2 separate regions of the Homo sapiens genome follow, and region 2 is linked to region 1. The links come from fine-mapping of genetic effects on gene expression. A gene starts in region 1. The other region holds a variant in brackets. All regions are shown on one strand. Distances are from middle to middle. Region 1 holds the start of TMEM64 (transmembrane protein 64). Region 2 has its middle 25 kb from the start of TMEM64.

Region 1 (4,393 bases):
AATTACAATACAACGGGACAAATGTGATAATGGCCATACAGAAAGTAGCCTGGGAAAGGAAAGGAAATACCAAATTGAGGGTGATGGTGAAGGGAAGGTAGTGCAGGACTGATATGGTTTGGATTTGTGTCCCTGCCCAAATCTCATGTCAAACTGTATGTAATCCCCATTGTTGGAGGAGAGGCCTGGTGGGAGGTGATTGGATCATGGAAATGGAGTTCTCATGAATGGTTTAGCACTATCCCTCCTTGGTACTGTTTTACGGAAGTAAAACTTTAGGTAAATGCTGTGGCAGCAGTAAGAGCTGCTCCTCCGTGTGAGTCACAAGGCTTGGAAAAGAGAGTTGAAGGATGTAGCACTTGCCTGGCACCTAGTAGGGACTCTACCTGACTCAGCCCAACCAGGGTGGATAGGAGGGAATGGCATGGAGGAGCCTGATCAGCCAGCAAGCAGGAGCCTGATCAGCAACGACCTAAGGTGTCCTGGTCCGTTATCTGGCAGGCAACTGGGTGGAAGGTCATCCACTGAGATATGAAACCCAGAAGGAAGAGTCGGTCTATGGGGGATCACACTTTTAATGAGGGATACCATCACATAGTTAACATTTACTGACGACTGATTTCAGGCATAGTGCTAATCACCTTACTTTACTATTTTGTTTAATCCTCACAACACTCTTACGAAGCTAAGTTGTACCATTATCTCCATTTTGCAATTTAAAAAGAAACAATGAGATTCAGGGACTGATTGTTTGACCAGTTACTAAACGTGATTTGCACCAGAGCCCAAGTTGATCATCTATCTACCAAGCTCTGCTGAGTTTGAGCTGCCTGCAGAATTCCACCTGGATGTGTCCACAGGCCGGACCACAAGCTGGGAAGTGTGGGCAGAGACATTCACTTAGGGGTCACTTCTTATGGGGGGCACGGCAGGATCAAAGCTGTTGGGCCTGGATGAGATGGCTCAGGAAACTCTGAAAAGGAAGACGGCAAGAGGACCTGGGGAACACTAACCTTAAACAGGCGGAAAGAGGAAAAGAAACCAGCGAATGAGTTTGAGAAGCTGCCCTCTGAGAAAGCGAACTCTTAAAAATGTCCTTCAGTGAATCTTTTTCAAATGCCCCTAGACCAATGCCTGGCACTCGATAAAGGACCTCTGGAGTCAGAAGGGGCGTTCTGTCAAGGGGGTGGGGGGACTTTATGCCTAATTTTTCCAGCTCCTAAAGGACCAAGCCATATGAAACCCACAGGGAGACCTCGATACCTGGGAGGCAAGTCTGAGACAAGAATAGGGTCAAGGACCATAGCCAAACCCTCCTCAGAACACAAGAACTCTTTCCCCCATTCGACAGGGCAGCGGCGGATGTGAGCGCCACTCACAGCTGCCCGCTCTGATAAGAGGTTACTGCGGAAACGACCAGGAGGGAACGGGCGAGGATCCAAGCCGCTCACGGACTGGGGTCGCCTCGGTCCGAGAGGGGGAGCGCGCGCCCTGACACGCAGGCATGCGCGCGCCTGTGGGAAGTCGGGGAGCGCGCCTGGGCCCCTGCCCGTCGCCCGGCTCTCCCCTCGTTGCAGCCTCGCTCTCCCTAGAGCTCCTTCTCCCCTCCCAGTGGTTTCCCTCCGCAGCTGTGGGCCTCCGCTGGCCCACGCGGACGCCCCGCGACCCCCGCAGCCTGGCGGGCAGCGCGTCACGGGAGCGGACCAGAACACAGCCCGCTCCGCCCCATCGCCCGCGGCCCCGCCCCCTCTGGCCGACAAGGGGCGGGCACCACCGGAGTGGGCTCCGTGGGTGCTGGGGCAGGAGTTTCCTCACTCCCCGCCTGGCCGTCGCTCCTCCGCTGACTCCGCGCCCTTCTACGGGCCGTCTCCCACCCTCTGAGCGGACGCAGGGAGTCGATGCCGGGCGAACCGGGCGCCATGAAGGGCAGCTGCCTAACGGGCGCCGCGGCGGAGGGGCTGGCCGGCTGAGGGCCCGCGCTGGGCCGAGGCATGCGGAGCCCGGGCGGGATCCTGCTCCAGGCGCTGCCCCGGCTGCTGCAGCACGCCGCCCTCCCGGGCCTCGCCGAGCTGCCGGCCCGCTGGGCCCTGCCGCGGGGTGCGGGCGGGGACGGCCCGGCGGACCGCCTTCCCCGCGGGGGCGGGGCGAGCGCGGCGGCGGCAGCAGCGGCGGCCTCGGGCGCCCTGCTCGGCGCCTATCTGGAGCGCCACGGTCCGCCCGAGGCTTCGGAGCTGCCGGAGCCGGGCGGGGCCTTGGCGGGCGGCCCCGGGAGTGGCGGCGGCGGCGTGGTGGTCGGCGTGGCTGAGGTGAGAAACTGGCGCTGCTGCTGCCTCGGCAGCACCTGTTGGTGCCGGAGCCTCGTGCTGGTCTGCGTGTTGGCCGCCCTGTGCTTCGCTTCCCTGGCCCTGGTCCGCCGCTACCTTCACCACCTCCTGCTGTGGGTGGAGAGCCTTGACTCGCTGCTGGGGGTCCTGCTCTTCGTCGTGGGCTTCATCGTGGTCTCTTTCCCCTGCGGCTGGGGCTACATCGTGCTCAACGTGGCCGCTGGCTACCTGTACGGCTTCGTGCTGGGCATGGGTCTGATGATGGTGGGCGTCCTCATCGGCACCTTCATCGCCCATGTGGTCTGCAAGCGGCTCCTCACCGCCTGGGTGGCCGCCAGGATCCAGAGCAGCGAGAAGCTGAGCGCGGTTATTCGCGTAGTGGAGGGAGGAAGCGGCCTGAAAGTGGTGGCGCTGGCCAGACTGACACCCATACCTTTTGGGCTTCAGAATGCAGTGTTTTCGGTAAGTGGGGTCCCGCTGGCCTATCCCTCTCCAAGTCTGTTTTTGAGCGGTCTTGTGGCGGCCCTAGGAGGGCGCTCTATCAGATAAATACCAGCAGAGAAGTGACATTGACGGCAGGAGTTACGATTACTTTCCATCGCAGCCTGGGAAGTCTGTCCTACACATAAAACATACCTAACGCGGAGCCTCGAAAGAGAGTTTGTTAGATAAAAAACTAATGTTTCTTTTAGGGATGGGAATGTAATTAAAAATGAAAAGCCCTCTTAACAATAGGCATGCAGGGACATGAATGGAAATGCCCATCTTTAATACTTGTCATCTTTTGTAGCAGCTTTGGCAACATTTAGGGAGGAAAGCTTTCTCTCTTGCTTACATAAATACATCCAGGGTTTTGATTCAAGTTTTTAGCGACATGGACCAAAGGAAGTGTTTCAGTAAACAGTGGAGGAGCTAGTTGCAGACTCCAGATTTTGGAGTTTGCTAAATTTGAAATGGGCTTTTTCTTCTTCAAGTAATTGTGCTTTAATGTGATGTAAAGAAGAAAATCCTACTGTTTATCTTTCTTTCTTTGGAGGAACTTCATTTCGAAATCACGGGGTGGTGAATAAAACAGAACAGATAATCTTTTGCTCAGTTAGCATATATTTTTCTTCTGTATCTGCACCATTATAGACTCTTTTCTGTCCTTGTATTCATATGTTTTGCTTACTCAGGTTTCTATAGCTAGTGTGCATCTCCATGCAACTGATTTAGGATAGAAACACTGCTAGTGAAGAGATCATCTTATTGGAAGAAAGGAATCTGGTCTTTACAAACTTTGTGACTTTGGATCAAGTTACTGACCCTGTCTGGCTTCACTTTTCTCTTTTCGAAAGTGAAGGACTTAAAAAAGTAGATTACCATGTTCCCCAAATTCAGTGATTCTAAACTACCAAGAGTTTATGTAGATTCCCAGGAACTTAACCCTTCAGCTAGACTTAAAGAAAACTTACTGAAATAAAGAGATAATTGCATTCAAAACCATAGGAATTGATGTATTTTAAGTGATTCTGATGCATTATTTTGTTTCAAAACGTAAATTATTGTTAGTTTCTGGAAACTTTCTCATTTTGTTTTGAATTAGGAATAATACTAACCAATCTGCCTCTTTGTGATGAAATTAAAACCTTTCTCTTTTTTCTTTTCTTTTAAATGCCTTTTGCAAACCTCTTGATTCCAAGCAACAGCAGCAATGACTATGGAATGGTATTTGGTAGAGGCAGTGGAAACAGATAAGGGGTTTTCTGTAGAGATAAAGTTTAGTGTTAGCAGTAGTTTGGTATAGTCTTAGTCTTAAATTTCTTTTTCATACCCTCCTATAGTATGAAATATAAACTTGAACTTTGACCCAGTCTTGGGTAATAATAAATAAACTGTCCCAGGACTTTGAAAGAAGGTTGGGCTAAGGAACCTAAATAGATTGATTCTGTTAGTTTGTGTTTCAATATAGCATGTATCCTTGGGCCTTTTCTTGTCCATCTACCGTGTGCCAACTACTGTCCTCGGCTCTTTCCACATATTTCTGATCCTTAAACCAGCCCTGCAGAAGTTAATTATGCACATATTAT
Region 2 (4,393 bases), 26 kb before region 1:
CCAGTATTATAGTACATATTAAACTATATTAGCATCCTCTGATTACTTGTCTGTCTTCTCTAATTGGCTGTATATCCCTTGAAGGCAAATAGTCATCTCTGTACCTCCAGAGTAGTATAGTCTGAGCTCCATGAATAAATAATTAATGAAAGCTCCTGGAGCTTCCAGGGTCAAGGTTAATAGTACTATACTTAATCGTCTAATTAGTATTACTACTTCAAAAGCCTCAGAAAATTGTGTCACATGCTGAATCTTACAGCCTAAGTGGTTAACATGGTGTAACAAGAGTACTTTACTCACGTCTCAGATTTCACTTTCTGTTCCTCTGCTTTTGTGTGAAATGTACTGTTTTTTTTGTTTATATTTTCCCTTTTCCCCTCTTCTACTTGTCATTCCTCCTCTGCATAGCTGTTCCTATTATGGAAATAAATTATGTTTAAATGTTTATGAATTGAGCAAAGTTGAACTTTCCTGGATTAAATAGCAATACGGTATTTAAATTACCATTTTTTTTTCTCAGAACGAACATCTTTCTGGATTCCTTTTAATACTGAGGGCCTTATAATTTGACAATGTAAATTAAAAGGCATCTAACATAAAAATGATACATAAATTTGTTTTTTTAAAAAAAAGCACACGCATCATATGTAAGAATTTATCACTATCTTCTGCTGTCTCAAATTTCCACTTTAAAGAAATATAAAAATTTGTGTAAGACTAGCAAGCAGCAACTGCTTTTATAATTGACTTTTCCAGTCCTATTCATCTTTTTTGATTAAACATAAGGTATAATCTGTTGAAAATTCAGTAATTCAAAAAATGAAGAATCATTTTTGATATCTATGTCTAGATTAAATACTGAAAAGAACTTTTTGTAAGGTACTTTACATAAGTGGAACTGTGGGGATTATCTAGAATAGAAATACCATTGTGCACCAAGGGTTATTTGTGACCATGTGTAAATACAAAAATAAATTTGGCCTATAGTTTAAAATTTTACTTATATGTAACTTTATTGATAAATTTTCATGCAGTAAAAACTGTATTATACTGTCCAGAATTATATAGATGTATTATATATTGCAGATAGAGATGTATGCACCATTTTATAATATCAAAAAGTTAGAGGTATGTACTTTGGAGTTGAGTTTCAGATATCTTCTAAAATTAATTTCTGAAATAGTAATGTAACAATTTATTTTTCCTTCTCTTTCTAATGAAATATAAGAATTACTGAAGCATAAACATAACTGATCATGAATAGCTGCAGCAACTACAATAGTTAGCATACACATTAGACCTCTAATGGTCTTTGAATGAAAACCTGGAGGTAATCAAATGAGCAAAGTGACAAAAAGAGATTACTGATTTGTCTGCAAAAAGGGATTGCTGAGTGTTTCATTCATTTATCCAGTGAATGGCTATTGAATATCTAATATATGTTAGGCCAGGTGTTGGGCCCAAGGAATCCAGCAGTAAACAAGACACAGTCTTCTGTACTCTCGTGGTTTACAGTCTAGCTGAAACAAAAATTTTCATAATGAAATTACAAGTGAGCATACAAAAAAAGGATGGTTCATTGGGCTACAGACTCATAAAACCTAGTCTGAGAGGCTAACAAATTAAAATGTGTGTGTGTGTGTAATTATGAGTTTAATTTTCCTAACATAATCAGTTATTTAAATGATAATACTTCCAGAGTTAATCTTGGTTAAAGACTCT[G/A]TGCTTTAGGAGACATGATGAAGCCCTCCCCTAAATACCTTCCCCAATAGTGTTCTGAATAAAGGTTACAGTCAAGTGTATGATTAAATGCCATTCAACAGGAAAAACAAAATCTATTGAGTGCCTAATAAGTGCTGGAGAACAAGACAGACATGTTTTGGCCCTCGGGTAGCTTCCAGTCTAGGAAAATGATGGCTGTTGAAGAATAATACAACATGATGAGTATCTCAGTGGGAGAAGGCCAGAGAGCCAAAGGAAGATACAATTTGGAAGCTGAGCCAGTCAGCTGTTGGCTGAAGGTTTCCAAGAGATTCGCAGACAAGTAAACAGCTCTACCTTTGGCACCTTTAGCATTCTGTGGGATTTGCTGTTCTTTGTCTCTTATAGAGTGTGTCTTTTCACATAGTTTTCATATTAAAATGCTCCCTTTTCCCCCAACACACACACTCACACATGCACACCAATGGCTCATGACTGGGTAACACAGGTAAGATCAGTTTTACGTTATGAAGGAGAACTGATCTTTTACCCTTGGCACTTTTCTTTCTTAAACTTGACTTTCCCCCTTCTTACTGCTGAAGTTACAAGACTCTGAAAGCAACAATTAGGGCGTAGGCCTAGGGCAGTGGAATCAAAGGAGCCTCTTTGCTTTCTTTTCATCTAGGCTTTAGGCCAGCGGCACAAAAGGAGACTTTGCGGAATGCCATGACTCAGCCTCACTCACTAGGGCTCTGGTTTAGTGCCAGAGACTCATCGTAAAGAATGCGTGTGTGCTCAGACTTTTTCATGGGTCCCTAAGCAATCAAAAGATGGCTGATTTATTTTTTAGAGACTTGAGAGTTCCAACAAAGCTTCTTTTTAACAGAGATTTATCTAACAGAAAACAAGATTACAATATGTTGTTTTCTTTAGGAAGGATACTCAAAATTTGCAATATTTTTGTTGTTTTTAAAGTATAGAACTCTAGTTGACATTCACACCGTTTCCACCAGTTTAGGGAGTAGGGTTGCTTGCTTTGATAAGATCACATGATATTGATTGAGCTGATTTTTCTAGGGTCAGGTTTTCCCCTGTTGTCAAGAGAGAGGTCACCACAGGCCTCCCTTCCCTCTTGCTTCCAATCAGATGGCTGGCAGAACAGGGTTGGAAGAGAATTTGGGGATAGAGGGGTTGTCCTCTCTTCCTTCTTCTCTCTAAGTTCGGAGCACAGCCTACACCACATCTGCAGTACACAGGGAGCTAACAGGGTCATCTTGTTTGTCTTTCTCTCCATTTCCATTAGTGCCCACTGGAGTCTAAGAAAAGGAAAAGAAATGAAGAGAGAGCATCCTAAGAGCCTGCCTTAGCTTGAGGCTATTCAGGCCTAATAAGCTCAGGAAAAAGAAGCCTTTCATGTACTCAGCCAAGCTTACTAGAGCTTTGTAGTGGCTTGAAGCTAAATTCCTAACTAATAAAGTTTTTTTTTTTAACTGTTGTTGCTTAGTTACTTTCTCCCTTGAATCATTTGCTTTATGAGAATACACCTCTCAGAGGTATCAGGGGAGGAGACTTAGTTAAGGCGAGTTTAGAAATACTCTTAGCACTCTGACAAAACACATTAAACAGTAACCCAATCTCCCTCAAATTTCTAAATAATGTACACATGAACTATTGATTTAAAAGTAAAAAATGCTGTTTTTTTTGTAGAATATATTTTACTGATATTGGTGTCAGTAAAGGCCTTGACATTCACTGTAAACAGCATAATATACAGAGCAATTACATATTTGTAAACCAATCCATGGAGTTCAACAAAATCTTGACAGTGAAGCCAAGACTGCCCACGCTGAATAAAGGATACCCATACTACCACCTACACTGTTCATGAGCTGCTCCACTTGACTTGCTAAATTTAGAATTAGAGAACTATTAAATATTAAGAGAGAGGAGAATGGTTTGAATGCTGGTAATAAAATATATCTACCGTGAGTTACTTTGCAGCTATGTGGTTGAAATTTTACAATGAATAGAACTACTAATCGCTGTAATATACCATGCTAGACTTTCCAAAAGCAAGTGCTAACATAAAAATTTCCCTTTGCACACATTCTTAGAAATGGATATTATCTGTTTTTAGCAAGAGTGTCGTGTAAATTCTGGCATTTATATACTGAGTCTCAAAGATCTCTACCTACATGGTTTTCATATAAGTAGAGATCTATATGGTTTGCTGCTCTTACCCACCCTGTGAGGTGAGTGGGTCAGTCACAGCTGTTGAAAAAATAGCTTTGTAGAGTTCCCCTTCTCAGCTGGCTGCTCTTCTTATTCATCGGGGTGTCACATATATAGTCTGAAAAGGCATGTTAAATATTATAGTAATTTGAAAATGAAGCCAAAAATGTTGGTTTTATAATGTAGAACACAAAAACAAAGCTGGAACTAGGTGGATGTTGAGGCTAAGATTCTCAATGATAATGGGGTGGGGGAAAAGGTGTTCTGTTTATTCAAAAAAGGCATGGGCTTTAGAAAACTGATAGATAATCTTTTTCCTAGATGATCTCACACACTGCCTTGGTTTTACCAACTACTAAAATACTGGTATCTTCTATATTTGCATCTTTAGGCTGGACTTCTCTTTCATCTCCTGACTGGTATATTCATTTACTTACTTAAAAACTCCTTGGAAAAAAAA

The links. PIP is the estimated chance that this variant, and not a neighbour inherited with it, causes the effect.
Region 2: its variant is the best candidate, but not a certain one, in a credible set for the expression of TMEM64 in whole blood (INTERVAL, PIP 0.53).

What each region holds. Positions count from the first base shown.
Region 1 is chr8:90,643,504-90,647,896 of GRCh38, reverse strand. It overlaps TMEM64 (transmembrane protein 64), which reads left to right and starts at 1,814. Exons shown (of 3, transcript NM_001008495.4): 1 at 1,814-2,786. The coding sequence starts at 1,992. It overlaps LOC124906712 (translation initiation factor IF-2), which reads right to left and starts at 1,456. Exons shown (of 2, transcript NR_185471.1): 1 at 1,264-1,456. RefSeq lists silencers at 1,408-1,817, 1,948-2,347 and an enhancer at 2,458-2,787.
Region 2 is chr8:90,669,111-90,673,503 of GRCh38, reverse strand. No RefSeq gene overlaps it. Among named protein-coding and RNA genes, the nearest start is that of TMEM64, 25 kb to the right of the region's middle. The variant G/A (reference allele first, on the strand shown) is at 1,723.